2 separate regions of the Homo sapiens genome follow, and region 2 is linked to region 1. The links come from fine-mapping of genetic effects on gene expression. Tissue or cell type: whole blood. Region 1 holds a variant in brackets; the other region holds the start of a gene. All regions are shown on one strand. Distances are between the middles of the regions.

Evidence for each region. PIP is the estimated chance that this variant, and not a neighbour inherited with it, causes the effect.
Region 2: it holds the start of TESPA1, and the variant in region 1 is fine-mapped to the expression of TESPA1 in whole blood (TOPMed, PIP above 0.99).

The regions. Positions count from the first base shown.
Region 1 is chr12:54,739,453-54,747,772 of GRCh38, reverse strand. No RefSeq gene overlaps it. Among named protein-coding and RNA genes, the nearest start is that of DCD, 95 kb to the right of the region's middle. The variant C/T (reference allele first, on the strand shown) is at 4,519.
Region 2 is chr12:54,981,499-54,989,818 of GRCh38, reverse strand. TESPA1 (thymocyte expressed, positive selection associated 1) reads left to right here and starts at 5,057. Exons shown (of 11, transcript NM_001136030.3): 1 at 5,057-5,234. It overlaps LOC107984515 (a long non-coding RNA gene), which reads right to left and starts at 4,968. Exons shown (of 2, transcript XR_001749161.2): 1 at 4,854-4,968.

The sequences.
Region 1 (8,320 bases):
GGATATTAGTTCTTTGTTGGATGCATAGTTTGCGAATATTTTCTCCCACTCTGTGGGTTGTCTGTTTGCTGATTATTTGTTTTGCTGTGCAGAAGTTTTTTGTTTTAATTAAGTCCCATCTCTTTATCTTTGTTTTTGTTGCATTTGCTTTTGGGTTGTTGGTCATGAACTCTTTGCCTAAGCCAATGTCTAGAAGACCTTTTCCTACATTATCTTCTAGAATTTTTATGGTATCAGGTCTTAGATTCAAGTCTTTGATCCATCTTGAGTTGATTTTTGTACAAGGTGAGAGATGAGGATCATTCTACATGTGGTTTGCTAATTATCCCAGCACCATTTATTGAATTGAGTGTCCTTTCCCCACTTTATGCTTTTGTTTGCTTTGTCAAAGATCAGTTGGCTGTAAGTATTTGGCTTTATTTCTGTGTTCTCTATTCTGTTCGCATGGCCTATGGGCCTGTTTTTTACCAATACCATGCTGTTTTTGTTTTTTGTTGTTGTTGTTTGTTTGTTTGTTTGTTTGTTTTGAGTCAAGGTCTCACTCTGTCCCCCAGGCTGGGATGCAGTGGCACAATCTTGGCTCACTGCAACTTCTGCCCCCTGGGTTCAAGCAATTCTTCCACCTCAACCTCCCAAGTAGCTAGGATTACAGGCACGTGCCACCATGCCCAGCTAATTTTTGTATTTTTAGTAGAGACTGGGTTTCACTATGTTGGCCAGGCTGGTCTTGAACTCCTGACCTCAAGTGATCTGCCCACCTCAGCTTCCCAAAGTGCTGGGACTATAGGCGTGAGCCACTGTACACTGCCTACCAAGCTGTTTTGGTAACTATAGCCTTGTAGTAGAGTTTGAAGTCAGGTAATGTGATGCCTCCAGATTTGTTCTTTTTGCTTAGTCTTGATTTGGCTACATGGGCTCTTTTTTGGTTCCATATGAATTCTAGGATTGTCTTTTCTAGTTCTGTGAAGAATGATAGCGGCATTTTGATGGGAATTGCATTGAACTTACAGATTGCTTTTGGCAGTATGGCCATTTTCACGATATTGATTTTACCCATCCATGAGCATGGGATGTGTTACCATTTGTTTGTGTGGTCTATGATTTCTTTCAGCAGTGTTTTGCAGTTTTACTTGCAGAAATCTTTCCTTGGATAGGTGTATTCCTAGATACTTTATGTTTTTGAAGCTGTTTTAAAAGGGATTGAGTTCAGCCAGGCATGGTGGCTCACACTTGTAATCCCAGCACTTTGGGAGGCTGAGGCAGGCAGATCACAAGGTCAGGAGTTCAAGACCAGCCTGGCCAATATGGTGAAACCCCGTCTCTACTAAAAATACAAAAAAAAAATAGCTGGGCATGGTGGTGGGTGCCTGTAGTCTAGCTACTCAGGAGGCTGAGGCAGGAGAATAGCTTGAACTCGGGAGGCAAAGGTTGCAGTGAGCCAAGATCACGCCACTGCACTCCAGCCTGGGTGACAGAGTGAGACTCTGTTTCAAAAAAAAAAAAGGCAGGGGTTGAGTTCTTGATTTGATTCCCAGCTAGGTTGCTGTTGGTGTGTAGCAGTGCTACTGATTTGTGTACATTGATTTTGTAACCTGGGACTTTATTGAATTCATTTATCAAATCTAGGAGTCTAGGTGGTTTTAGTGCCAAATTCTACCAAATCTTTAAAGAGAAACTAACACCAATTCTCCTCAAATTATTTCAAAAAATTCAAGAGGAAAGAATTCTCCCTAGCTCATTCTGTGAGGCCAGCATTACCTGATACCAAAACTAGACAAGGACACAACAAAAAAGAAACTACAGGCCAATATTTCCGATGAATATAGATGCAAAAATTCTCAACAAAATATTAGCAAACTGAATCCTACAGAACATCAAAAGATCATACACCATGATCAGGTAAGATTCATCCCAGGGATCTAAGAATGCTTCAACATATGCAAATCATTAAACATGATACATCACATCAACAAAATGAAGGACAAAAACCATATGATCATCTCAAATACGCAGAAAAATAATTTGATAAAATTCAACATCCCTTCATGATAAAAACTCTCAACAAACCAGGCATAGAAGGAACGTACCTCAAAACAATAAAGGCCATATGTGACAAATCCATGCTAATATCATATTGAATGGTAGAAAGCTGAAAGCCTTTCCTCTAAGAACTGGGACAAGATAAGTATGCCCACTTTCACCAAGTGGCTTCAAATATCACATGTTCTCACTCATATGTGAGTGCTAAATACTTGATCTTGAGAAGGTAGAAAGTAGAAGATAGATACCAGAGGCTGGGAACAGAATGTGGGTGGAAGAAGTGATGAAGAGAGGTTGGTTAATGGCTACAAAAATACAGTCAGATAGAAGATATAAGTCCTAATGTTCAATAGCAGAGTAGGGTGACTATAGTTGCAACATATACTTCAAAGTAGCTAGAAGAGAGTACTTGAATTGTTCCCAATGCAGAGATAATACTGAAGGTGATACATAACCCAAATACCCTGACTTTATCATTATGCATTCTATGCATACAACAAAATATCATATTTATGCCATAAATATGTAAAGTATTATATATCAATAAAAATAAATAATTTTTAAATGCATTTTTATAAAAAAAATCTCTTTTGTCTTTGAATCTGCTCTTCAACTTTGACTTCAACTTCTGCCTTTATCTGAATACCTACTTCCACATCCATTTCTGGCATTACTGAACACCTGCATGACCAATGATCATATTATCTTAAAGATTCCTTGATAGCCAATAACCTAACAACATCAATAATACAAACGTGTGCCATTCAGATGCATTGCTAACCCTCATAGCATTCTGTGTGAAGAGTAAATTCTGCAAGTGCAGTAAATTCTGCAAATACAGTAAAAGGTTATCTCAGCTAGGCCTGGTGTGTTCAAACCCTGCACATTCCAAACAAAGGACTGGCCTTTGATCAGCTCCTGGGAGATAACCTCTGAGCCTTTTGGAATAGCCTTCTTAATGAATGTCTTTGTAAACCCAAGACCTTGAGCCACACCAGATAATTTATGCGAACAATGTGATTTATGTTGAATTCATGTTTCTGTTTATCTGTTTCTGGGCCACAATGCATCAGTTTGACCTCTGGGGGAGCTGGCAACTGAGTAGCTTAGGTCAGTCAAGTGGATGTTCCATGCCCATGCAACTGACCCCCAATAAAAACTCTGGACAACAAGGCTCCAATGAGCCAAGCTGTTTGGCAGTACTTCAAAAATGATGTCACACATTAGACTTAAAAGATCATCATGGTGGATGGGAGGCAGGACTAGCTTGCTGCATGCGGAAGCTTGCATTGTGAATTTTAGCTCCAGAATGACTGCAGGAATAAATCAGGAAACCTGTGAGGATCTACAGATCATCCAAAGGAAGCAGACTGTTCCTGCAGGACCTGGGAGACATCCCAAATACTGTGACTGCCCAAACTGCAGAAGTGAGAAAGGGAGATCCTCCATCCCAGAACACACACCCCTACTGGGGAAACTGAAGGTCTAGTTTGCAGAAGATTCTGACCTTACCTGTAGCTGAGTCAATTTAGAGAGCTGAGCGAAACACAAGGGTAGAAGAAGCACCAGGAAAGGCCCTGGAAGTTGACTGGGTCCTGAAGCAGGCTATTCCTGCCTGGCATCACAGGGATCCTTTGGGAGGGAAGCCAGAGGTGTGGGGAAAATGCCACAGGGAGAAGGAAACCTCCAGCTGAACTTTGTAACAATTTGAAACACTCCAGAAGCCTCCTGGCCAGAACTCAGGGGAAGGCATGAATCTGGCCTGCAGACTCCACAGGCAGAGGAAGAACTAAAGCCCTATTCTTTTGTAGCTGGGAGGTAGGTAGTCTGGGGTAGGTCCTCAGCCCTGCTTGCCCACTGCCTGGAAACAGAGGCGGTGCTTTTAGGTGGGGCACGGTGGGAGTGAGACCAGCCCTACAGATTGCATGGGAGCTGGGTGAGGTCTGTGACTGCCAGCTTTCCCCAACTTCCCTGACAACCTGCATGACTCAGCAGAGGCAGCCATAATCCTCCTAGGTACATAACTCCATTCAACTGGTAACCTCGCCCCCATCCCCCACAGCAGCCACAACTGACCTGCCCAAGGAGTCTGAGCTCAGACACACCTAGCCCTGCCCCCACCTGATGGTCCTTCCCTATCCACCCAGGTATCTGAACACAAAGGGCATGTACTTTTGGGAGTTCTAGGGCCCTGCCCACCACTGGTTCCTCTTCATACTACCACAGCTGATGCTCTCTGGAAAGCACCACCTCCTGGCAGGAGGCCAACCAGCACCAAAATAGAGCGTTAAACCAAGAAATCTAAGAACCCTCACAGAGTCCATTTCACCTACCTGCCACCTCCACCAGAAAAGGTGCTTGTATCCATGGGATGTGACCCATAGACAGGTCACATCACAGGACTCTGTGCAAACAACCCCCAGCACCAGCCTGGAGCCTGATAGATTTGCTGGGTGGCTAGACCCAGAAGAGAGATAA[C/T]AATCACTACAGCTCACCTCTCAGGAAGCCACATCCATAGGAAAAGGGGAGAGTACTACATCAAGGGAACACCCCATGGGACAAAAGAATCTGAACAACAGCCTTCAGCCCTAGACCTTCCCTCTGACAGAGCCTACCCCAATGAGAAGGAATTAGAAAACCAATTCTGGTAGTATGACAAAACAAGGCTCTTTTGCACCCCCAGAAAATCACACTACCTCACCAGTAATGGATCCAAACCAAGAAGAAATCCCCAATTTACCTGAAAAAGAATTCAAGAGGTTAGTTATTAAGCTAATCAGGGAGGCAACAGAGAAAGGCAAAAACCCAATGCAAGGAAATAAAAAGAAAAAAATACAAGAAGTGAAGGGAGAAATATTCAAGGAAATAAATAGCATAAATAAAAAAACAATTAAAACTGCAGGAAACGCTGGACACATAGAATTGCAAAATGCTCTGGAAAGTCTCAGCAATAGATTGAACAAGTAGAAGAAAGAAATTCAGAGCTGAAGGCAAAGTCTTTGAATTAACTCAATCCAACAAAGACAAAGAAAAAAGAATAAGAAAACATAAACAAAGCCTCCAAGAAGTCTGGAATTATGTTAAATGACTGAACCTAAGAATAATTGGCATCGCTGAGGAAGAAGAGAAATCTAAAGTTTGGAAAACATACTTGGAGTAATAATCAAGGAAAACTTCCCCAGCCTTGCCAGAGGCCTAGACATCCAAATACAAGAAGTACAAAGAACACCTAGGACATTCATCACAAAAAGATCTTCACCTAGGCACATTGTCGTCAGGTTATCCAAAGTTAAGACAAAGGAAAGAATCTTAAGGGCTGTGAGACAAAAGCACCAGGTAACCTATAAAGGAAAACCTATCAGATCAACAGCAGATTCCTCAGCAGAAACCCTACATGCTAGAAGGGATTGGGGCCCTGTTTTCAGCCTCTTCAAACAAAACAATTATCAGCCAAGAATTTTTTATCCAGTAAAACTAAACATTATATGTAAAGGAAGATACAGTCTTTTCCAGAAAAACAAATGCTGAGCGAATTCGCCACTACCAAGCCACCACTACAAGAACTGCTAAAAGGAGCTCTAAATCTTGAGACAAATCCTGGAAATACACCAAAACAGAGCATCTTTAAAGTATACATCTCACAGGACCTATAAAACAAAAACACAAGTTAAAAAGCAAAAAAAAAAAACCAAGGTACACAGTCAAGAAATAGCAAGATGAATGGAATGGTACCTCACATCTCAATACTAACATTGAATGTAAATGGCCTAAATGCCCCACTTAAAAGATACAGAACTGCAGAATGAATAAGAATTCACCAACCAACTATCTGCTGCCTTGAAGAGACTCATCTAACACACAAGGATTCATATAAACTTAAAGGGGTGGAAAAGGGCATTTCATGTGAATGGACACCAAAAGCAAGCAGGAGTAGCTATTATTATGTCAGACAAAACAAACTTTAAAGCAAGAGCAGTTAAAAAAAACAAAGGGGACATTATGTAATGGTAAAAGGTCTTGTCCAACAGGAAAATATCACAATCCTAAACATATAAGCACCTAACATTGCAGCTCATAAATTTATAAAACAATTACTAATAGACCTAAGAAATGAAAAAGACAGCAACACAATAATAGTGGGGGACTTCATCAATACTCCACTGACAGCACTGGACAGGTCATCAAGACAGAAAGTCAACAAAGAAATAATGGATTTAAACTATACCTTGAAACAAATAAACTTAATAGATATATACAGAACATTCCATCCAACAACTGCAGAATACACATTCTATTCAACAGTGCATGTAACTTTCTCCAAGATAGACCATAAGATAGGCCACGAAATGAGCCTCAATAAATTTAAGAAAATTTAAATTATATCGAGCACTTTCTTAGACCACAGTGAAATAAAACTGGAAATCACCTCCCAAAGGAACCTTTGAAACTATGCAAATACATGGAAACTAAATAACCTGCTCCTGAATGATCATCAGGTCAAAAACAAAATCAAGATGTAAATTTAAAAATTATTCGAACTGAATGACAATAGTGACATAACCTATCAATCCTCTGCAATACAACAAAGACAGTGCTAAGAAGAAAGTACATAGCCCTAAATACCTACATTAAAAAGACTGAAAAAGTGCAAAATGACACTCTGAGGTTATACCTCAAGGAACAAGAGAAACAAGAACAAACCAAACCCAAACCCAGCAGAAGAAAGGAAATAACCAAGATAAGAGCAAAACTAAATGAAATTGAAACCAAAAAAATACAAAAGATAAATAAAACAAAAAGCTGGTTCTTTGAAAAGACAAATAAAATTGATAGACCAATAGCAAGATTAATAAAGAAAAGAAGAGAGAAATCCAAATAGCATCAATAAGAAACAAAACAGCAGATGTTACAACTGACACCACAGAAATACAAAAGGTTATTTAAGGCTACTATGAACACCTTTATGCACATAAACTAGAAAACCTAGAAGATATGGATAAATTTCTGAAAAAATACAACCCTCCTAGCTTAAATCAGGAAGAATTAGATACCCTGGACAGACCAAGAATAAGCAGCAAGATTGAAATGGTAATTTAAAATCACCAACAGAGAAAAGTCCAGGACCAGACAGATTCATAACAGAATTCTACCAGATATTCAAAGACCAATTGGTACCAATTCTTTTGACACTATTCCACAAGTTAGAAAAAGAGGGAACCTGCCTTAATTCATTCTATGAAGCTAGCATCAACCTAATACCAAAACCAGGAAATGACATAACCAAAAAAGAAAACTACAGACCGATATCCTTGATGAACATAAATGTTAAAATCCTTAACAAAATATTAGCTAATAGAATCCAACAACATATCAAAAAGATAATCCGCCATGATCAAGTGGCTTCATACCAGGGATGCAGGGATGATTTAACATATGCAAGTCAATAAATGTGATATACCACATAAGTAGAATTAAAAACAAAAATCACATGATCATCTCAATAGATGCAGAAAAGGCATTTGACAAAATCCAGCATCCCTTTTAATTAAAACTCTGAGCAAAATCAGCATACAAGGGGCATACCTCAATGTAATAAAAGCCATCTATGACAAACCCACAGCCAACATAATAGTGAATGGGAAAAGTTGAAAGCATTCCCTCTGAGAACTGGAACAAGACAAGGATGCCCACTCTCACTATTCCTCTTCACCATAGTACTGTAAGTCCTAGCCAGAGCAATCAGACAACAGAAAGAAATAAAGGGCATCCAATTAGTAAAGAGGAATTCAAACTGTCACTGTTCGCTGATGATATGATTGTTTACCTCGAAAACCCTAAAGACTCCTCCAGAAGGCTCCAAGAACTGATACAATAATTCAGCAAAATTTCTGGATACAAGATTAATGTACACTAATCAGTAGCTCTTCTATACACCAACAACGACCAAGCAGAGAATCAAATCAAGAACTCAACCCCTTTTACAATAGCTGCAAAAAAAATTAAAACAAATACTTAGTAATATACCTAACCGAGGAGTTGAAAGACCTCTACGAGGAAAACTACAAAACACTGCCGAAAGAAATCATAGATGACACAAACAAATGGAAACACAAACCATGCTCATGGATGGGTAGAATCAGTATTGTGAAAATGACCATACTACCAAAAGCAATCTACAAATTCAATGCAATCCCCATCAAAATGCCACCATCATTCTTCACAGAATTAGAAAAAAAAATTCTAAAATTCATATGAAACCAAAAAAGAGCCCACATAGCCA
Region 2 (8,320 bases), 240 kb before region 1:
ACTTTTCCAAAATAATTTCCTTGGGATGTTCCAAGGAAGGAAGGAAAGATAAGGGAAGGGTAGGGAAGGAGAGGGGAGGGGAGGGGAGGGCAGGGGAATCCATAGGCCAATACATTTGGGAAATACAAAACTTTCTCCTTCTAGGAGAGTCACAATTCATGTTAATCTATTAAAAGCCTCAAGAAGTTATGCCTTAAAGCAGGGGGCCTCAACCCCTGGACCACAGACCAGCACAGTTTGGTTGCCTGTTAGGAACCTGGCCTCACAGCAGGAAGGTGAGTGGCAGGCATGATCATCTGAAGTGGAACAGTTTCATCGCCAAACCCTCCCCCTCACCCTGCTCCCATGGAAAAATTGTCTTCCATGAAACCAGTCCTTGATGCCAAAAGGTTGGGGACCACTGCCTTAAAGGAACATGTTTGTCTTTTGTTAACCCTGTATTTCCCCAAATTACTTGATCATACTAGAAAATAAGCCCTCTAAGGGACAGTATTTGATACTGTTTCTCCCCCTTGTATATCTTCCTCTCCTTCTATACTCCCCTCAGTCCCTTCCCCAGATCTATCTCATTTCTGACACTCAGAAGGTATCCAATAAAATACATTTTGGGTAGAATTACAATCCAGATCACTGAAAGAACACCCTCTGCAGAGGCCTGAGATGGATTGCTCTTCTGTTTTGCTGGACTCTTACAGAGGGAAGATACAGCCAGACAGAAGGAAGAACTTTCTGGCATTGAGTGGAGTAATTTAGTAGAATGGGTAGGTTAGAAAAGTTAGAGAATCCCATTTGTTTGTATCCTTAACAACCAGAACATAGAAGCAGAGAAAAGAACAAGATGACCTTGGTGGACACTTTTCTGCCTGGAGAAAGTTCAGAAAATCCTTGGTGAGTTAAATCACTGCTCTCTCCCCTACAATTCTATCCACTCTCTCTTTCTACTTTTGAGCCTTTGGTACAGGAAGGAGACAAAGTCACTCAAATTCCCACATCAGCAATTTGGAGGAACAGACTCTTAGCAAAAAAAACAAAACAGCCAAACAAAACAAAACAAAAATGGCATTTGCAAACCCCAGGATCTGAGAAAGAAGAAGGTTGAGAGCTGAAATGGAGGCAGATGATTTGCATCTGGGCCTGGGCAGAGGGGCCCAGCTGCTCGGCCCAGAGCAGTGGCTCTGAGCAGCAGCTTCTCTGTCTTGGGACAGCCTCTATGGACAGCTGTCCTGGCTCTGCCCCAGGTCTGGGCAACCTGCCAGCTCAGCCTGTAGTTCTGCAGCTCCAGAACTTATACTCACTACAGCCCATCTGTTTGATGGGCTCATCAGTGTTCAGAAATTGTTCTTATTTATCAGTGTTATCAGGTTACATGTCTAGAGGATAATATTATTCAAAAGCAATATTTACTTGGCTTTTCAATGGAAAAGAGTCTTTCAAAATACTTTTTCTAATACCTTTATAATAATTTCTTACCAAATATCACTTAATATTTTCATTTTCCATAATAAACTACATGCAGTTATAAAAGGGTAGAGAAAAATAGTCTGTACAGGTGTTACTGACATCTAAAGCCAAGAGGATCTTAGAAAATATTTCTCTGTCAGAAGGTGATACCGATATCCAGTGAAATTAAGTAACTAGTATAGTTTTAAACTCAGATTGCTCTTTTACCCCTAGTTCAGGGTTTTTACTAAATTCTATAAAACACAAGAGAGGGAGCCATGGAATGACAAATAGGCCCTATCATGAGGCACCAAACTGCTGAATCACATAGGCAGTAGAGAGCTAATTCATTATCTCAGTTAGCATAAGGGTTTTTATTTTTAACCAAGGGAAAAAAAATGAACAAGCTCACAAAAAAACCTTCAGAAACCCTGAACTACTGCGTCTCGTATAAAAAGAACAAGTCATTTTGTTTTCATGAAGCACCTGGAATATATGCTCAGAGAAGTTCATGGTGCCAAAGATATAGAGACAATGTTTTCAAAGGGTGGGAAGGGCAGGTGAGAGGGAAAAAAGAGAAAGGGGAAGGAGGAAAGGAGGGAAGGAAGGAAAGAAGGAAGGAAGGAAGGAAGGAAGGAAAAGGAATGGAAGGAAGGAAGGGAAAGAAGGAAAGAAACAAAGAAAGAAAGAGAAAGACTATACAACTGAGAAAGAAGATAAACAGAGGAATACCCTGGGCCGCCTCCTCCTCCTAGGAATCATATAGTCTTCATCTTTGTCTTTCAGAAGCTGCTTGTAGAAGAGAAAAATATTTCTTTCAAAAAATAAATCACAAATACTATAAACATATAAACCTACATATGTACTCATAAAAATTAAGAATAAATATAAATAAAAACCAAAAATTAATACATCTTTTTTATTAACAAAAAAATCTCTAGCAATTGCTTGTGAAATGGTATCTTTAATGAGTGAGGTAATTTTGACAGATAGACATAGTATTCTGCAGAAACTGAAAATATTATATTTCATGCAAATCAAAACCACAATGAGATACCATCTCACACTACTCAGAATGGCTATTATTAAAAAGTCAAAAAATAAAAGATGTTGGCGAGGTGGCAGAGGAAAAGGAATGTTTATACACTGTTGGCGGGAGTGTAAATTAGTTCAACCCTTGTGGAAGACAATGTGGCGATTGCTCAAAGACCTAAAAACAGAAATATCTTTAGACTCAGCAATCCCATTACCGAGTATATACCTGGAGGAATATAAATCATTCTGTTATAAAGACACGAGCACATGTATGTTTGCTGCAACACTATTCACAATAGCAAAGACATGGAATCAACCCAAATGCCCAGTGATGATAGACTGGATAAAGAAAATGTGGCACATATACACCATGGAATACTATGCAGCCATAAAAAAGAATGAGATCATGTCCTTTGCAGCAACATGGATGGAGCTGGAGGCCATTATCCTTAGCAAACTAACACAGGAACAGAAAACCAAATACCGCATGTTCTCACCTATAAGTGGGAGCTAAATGATGAGAACACATGGACACATAGAGGGAAACAACACACACTGGGGCCTATGGGAGGGTAGAGGGTGGAAGGAGGGAGAGGATCAAAACAAATACCTATTGGGTACTAGGCTTAATACCTGGGTGATGAAATAATCTGTACAACAAACCCCTATGACAGGAGTTTACCTATGTAACAAACTTGCACATGTACCACTGAACTTAAAATAAAAGTTAAAAGAAACTATTATATTTCAAGAGTCTTAAAAATAGCTGCAATTTCTTGAGCATTTGCTGTAAGGTAGGCGCTGGACTGAATACTCTGTATTCCTTTATTCTTATAGCTCTACAACCACTCCTGTAAGGTTATCCCCATTTAGCAGCTAACAAACTGAGACCTAGAGATGTTAACGTATCCAAGACTACAGAGCTACTTGATGCCAGAGCTTCACTCTAAAGCCTGCTCTCCTAACCATCAAACTATCAATGTTAACAAAATGTTGACATTTGGGCCAGGACAATTATTCCTTATACTGAAGAGTCCCATCCCTTCAAAAGCACTTATCATCATTGGCCCTCAGGTACTAAATACCAGTATCAGCTTCCCATTTCTTTGAAAATTAAATCTCTCTCACATATTTCCAAACTCCCTACCGAAGTTATATTCTCCATTTCCCAAACATATTGGAAAACAACTGTTAAGGAAAACATTGAATTCTAGAAACTTAGGATTTAAAAGAGTTGTTAAGTTTCCATTAGTTCAGCTTTTATAGTTAATTTGTACGGAAAAGAATAGTAAATAAAGAGAATTAGGGCGTGTTGGATTTAGCATTTTACTTGTTGACTGTGAAGCTAATTCTCAGAGAAGCACATATTTAGCATCTACTATGTCCTGAGAAAATATGTTAGATATTTTCATGCCTACGTAAAAGGAATAGCGTGGGAGAAGGGTTGAGTGAGAAACAGAGAGAATTGTTATTTTCCTCACATTATACTTGAAGAAAATAATGTTTTGAGAACTTAATTTGCCAAGCAAGAATTTTATTTAGGATTATTTCTACCATATTATAGCTATACTATGGATACTCAATGGAGTTGTCCCATTGATGATTGGAAATGGAATTTAGAAACATGGTAAAAAAAAAATCTAACTATACCTATAGCCAAAAAATCAGAAAGAAGGTAATGAACATGTGAAAATCAGTCACAATTAACACATTAGAGGAGTGCCTTGTAGAATAAATATTGTGATATACATTCATAAATAAATGATTTAAAGAAGGAAACAGTAGAATCAGGAGAGAGACAGAAAGAAGATATCCAAAATGCAGCAGCATCCTACGGAGAAGAGTGTTCAGAGATACTGGAGAAGCGAGGAGGGATAGTTAGCAGTGCTGGATGCTCCCGGTGGGTGAAAGTGATTGAGGCCTGGGAGAAACCTTTTAGAGTTCAACAAGCCTTTTCCAAACTGAAAACCAATAAACTGAAGACATCTTCAGGGTGTAACCGATTTTAAAAGTTCAGCTTTGAAAACGTTGGGGAAAGCAGTCATTTACTACAAAAACAAAAACTTTGAAGTGGTTTGAACATAAAACAAAGTTAAGAAACTAACAGAAAAAAAAAGTAGTCAGTATTCAAAAACAAGCTTCGGGGGAATTTACCAGAGTATGAAAGTTATCAACACAGAGCGACTGGCTCAGAGCCCTCTCAAGTGTGTGATACGACTGGAAACTTCTTCTCTGAGATAAACGCCAGATCATTTATGAGAGAGAGCTTTCCCATTTTCAGACAGCTCTCCTGAGGACAGAAGGATTTATCTGCAGCAGTGGAATTCTAGTTATATGGTAGGAAGACTCCTGCACACACCTCTTTAAATGGACTGTACCTTTGCCTTAATAGGAAAAGATCTCCTGTTTTTCTGGAAAGACAGAGGCAGCTCTGGGGCAGGAAGGTCTTCCTAGTTGTGAGCACCGTGTCTACGGATGGTTTGTCCTTCGCTCAGTCTCCTGAGCCGGAGCAAAGGATGTGGCTGGGCCAGGAGGCGGGGACTGCATCTACATGTGTGGATGTGTGTGTGTGTGGTGTGTTCTCATTTCCGCTTCCCCTTTTGAGCAGGCAACAGCAGTTGAATGAGTTCAGGGAGAAAGGCATAATCTACAACATGATACTTTCTCACTTGCTTCACCTCTGTGCCCACACCTGTGAAGGCCTCGGCCCAGCTTCGACAACTGCTTTGCCTCAAACTCAGCTTTCTACCAGCAGACAGGTAAGCACAGCCTTTATCTCAGTTTCAAGGCTGTACTGATTTAGGGTGATGCTAGGAGAAAGAAGGAAACATGTCAGAGAAAAATCAGGCTGTCAAGTCAAGGGAAAATCAAGAGAAAATCTCCCACCACTCTTACTTCAACCTTAAAAGCATCCATCATTATGCCTAGGAGAACGATGCTGGGTGCCCTTTTGCTTTCGTTTGTTTGTTTTCTCTTTATTATCAGAGAGGTAATCTTTCTAGATTCTCAAAACTTGGGTCTCTTTGATGACTTGAATAACATTTTAGGAATTTTTTTTCACCTTTCTCACCTGCAAAGTTCTTCTCTGTGTCTTGCTGAACTCATTGTTGCTGCAATTTCCATCTGATTATAACATCGAAAAGTTCTCAAGGAAGAAGTTTCCCGGTTTCATTTCAGGCCCTACTCTAGTGTCCATAGCTCCAACCATTGAGAGTACCTGGCTGAAATCAACTTTGCTTTCTGTGGGTATGACCTCTTTCTTCAGAAGCTGTAGAAGAAACTTGTTGAGATAAACTGCAGCAAGATATATTGAGGTCAGCTACGAGGGAGGATGTACACACTTGAGTGAGGTAAGGTCAAATTCACCGGGAGGCTCAAGATAGATGGATAGCCACCATCAGGACCAGATTTCAGGGTTCACATCTCAAAGATAGATAGATGGATGTGTTGCCTTCTCAGTGACCTACATAATATTGGGGGCTTCATGCTCCTCCAACACCCCTTGCCCCAGTGGTAGCAGGCAGAGCATATCACCACCTACATGAGTTTTGGGGTAGATGGAGGAGTGGAAAGATCCTCCACCCTGGGGTTTTCCCATGCCCCTTCTGTGCCACTAAGCTCACCAGTGGGTGGAAGAAAAAGGGTGGGTCCCCAGGGCAGGGCAAGGACAAGAAAGGAGAGTTCCACAGAAGTGATTTGACAAGACTGTGAGCATTTACAGGAGATATCCAGGGAAGTACTAGTGACTCTGTATACCACAAATGGTCCTGAGTAGAGAGGTAAGGAGACTTTCTAGATGGTGCAGGGCAGTACCTAGGATGGGAGGTTGGAGGTAGGAACCTTCAACTTGTGTGTCCAAGTATCAGACTCAATAGTTGTTCAGCTGAGTGATTAGAGATAAAGATCTCACAATATTGTCTTGCAGCATGAAGTGTTAGTAGGAAGAAGGGAAGTCAGGTTTATTGTCTGTCTCTACTTGGACTATTATCAGAAATAACAAGCTGAAGATATAGCAGAAGGGATAGAAAGCAATTTAACATCTGAGTTATTCGCATGCACCCCAGGGTGTTTAGAAACCATTTACAACCACGCTACCAACATGTTCTCATAACTCTTGGGTTTTTTGAAAATTAAGATGGAACCCTGCGATTCAGCATTATGTAGTGAACATGAAGCCCCAACCGTCATTTTCAGTTCAATGTTTGATTTGGATTCTAGTATGGAGGTCTCGTCTCAGCCAATGCTGTGACTTACAAGATTCCTTCTGGGCTACAGTAAGGGGAAAAGATCACACGTTTATTTCCACCTGCAAACTGACAACTGTTCTCTTTTCCACCTAAGGCACAAGACCAAAGTGGATATTCCAGTACCCACAGTACTGTGTGCCTTACAACACCCAGGCCTGATGCAGAATGGCCTAAACACAGATTTCAGATTGAGAAAAGAGTTCAGTCAAATAAGTAGAGGGACGAGGAGAAGAGAGTGTGTAGATATTGAAAAAGAAAAGCAGGAAAGAAGAAAAATGAATATATGCAGGACAGAGCTTATTACCAAGGAAATGAAACTGAAGAATTAAAGATACGAATTCACAGAGCTAACACAATGGTTGAGAAATCTGCTCATTCTCCCTACTTTCTCTTGATGAAGCCATCTATAAATCAGCTCAGATAAACTGCTGTTTCTTATTCTTGATGTCTTTATTGCCCATTCAAATGAAGATATTTGATGTCTCCCTACATTGAGAACAAGCGATTAATTTTTTTTCCAAATCCACAACTTTAATATTTCCTGTAGCAATTATACAAGCCTTTCTTAAAATTCATATCCTAAAAGTGGAAGTAAGGAAGAAAGGGAAGGAGAGGAAAAAGGTCTTAGATGGTCTTCTTTCAGTATTTATTCAGCTACGCTTATTTGTGGGAGAAAGAGTATGAAAAGGGAGGGGAATAGGAGTTCTATTGACTAATGGGCATTTTTTCTTTCTGTTATTTACCAAGTAACATCTCTCCTTTTCCCCGAACAGATTGAACTGCTCCTTAGACAATAGAAGTCTCAGAATGCTCAAATATTATACTCAGGGAAATTCTTGTTCTGATGATCTTCCAACCTGAGTGACATGGAAGAGGGTTAGGAGCTAGAAGACAGTTCTATGAAGGAATGTGAGAATTTGTTGCAGATTGGGGTATGTCAAATGGGGGACAATCCACCTGGGTTGAGGTGGAGTTTGTCCAGTTCATGAACAGAGAAATGTTAGCTACTCTGGGATTTCCCGCAGCTCTGCGATGGTAATGATGTATATCTTGGCTGTGGATGCAGAAGGTCTTATGGGCCACATCATGGAAACCCCATTTCCTTCTTCTCTCCTCCCACACTGGTTCTCACTCTCAGTCTCAACTCACAGGCACTGCTTGGGGCATAGGTACAAAACAGACAGAAGAGAAGAGAGGTCTGTCTCATACATGTCCCCTAGAGCACTAAAGGCAAACCTGGGACTGGGCCTTGGAAACCAAGTGTGGCAGGAGGAAGGCTGTATGATATAAAGGAAGAAAGCATGCATCTGGAACTCAGAACTTGTGAGTTTGGTTCCCATTTAAAACCACTAATATTCTTTGTGACTCCAGGCAAGCCTGCTTCTCCCTCCCTCTCTCTCTCTCTTTCTCCCTCCTTTCTCTCTCTCTTCAGTTTCCTCAACTACAAAATGAGTGAACAGGATTAGGTAATCTCTCTGGTCCCTTTGGGAATTAGGTAAGAAAGAAAGACTTTTTTTTTTTAATATATTATACTTTAAGTTCTAGGGTACACGTGCACAATGTGCAGGTTTGTTACATATGTATACATGTGCCATGTT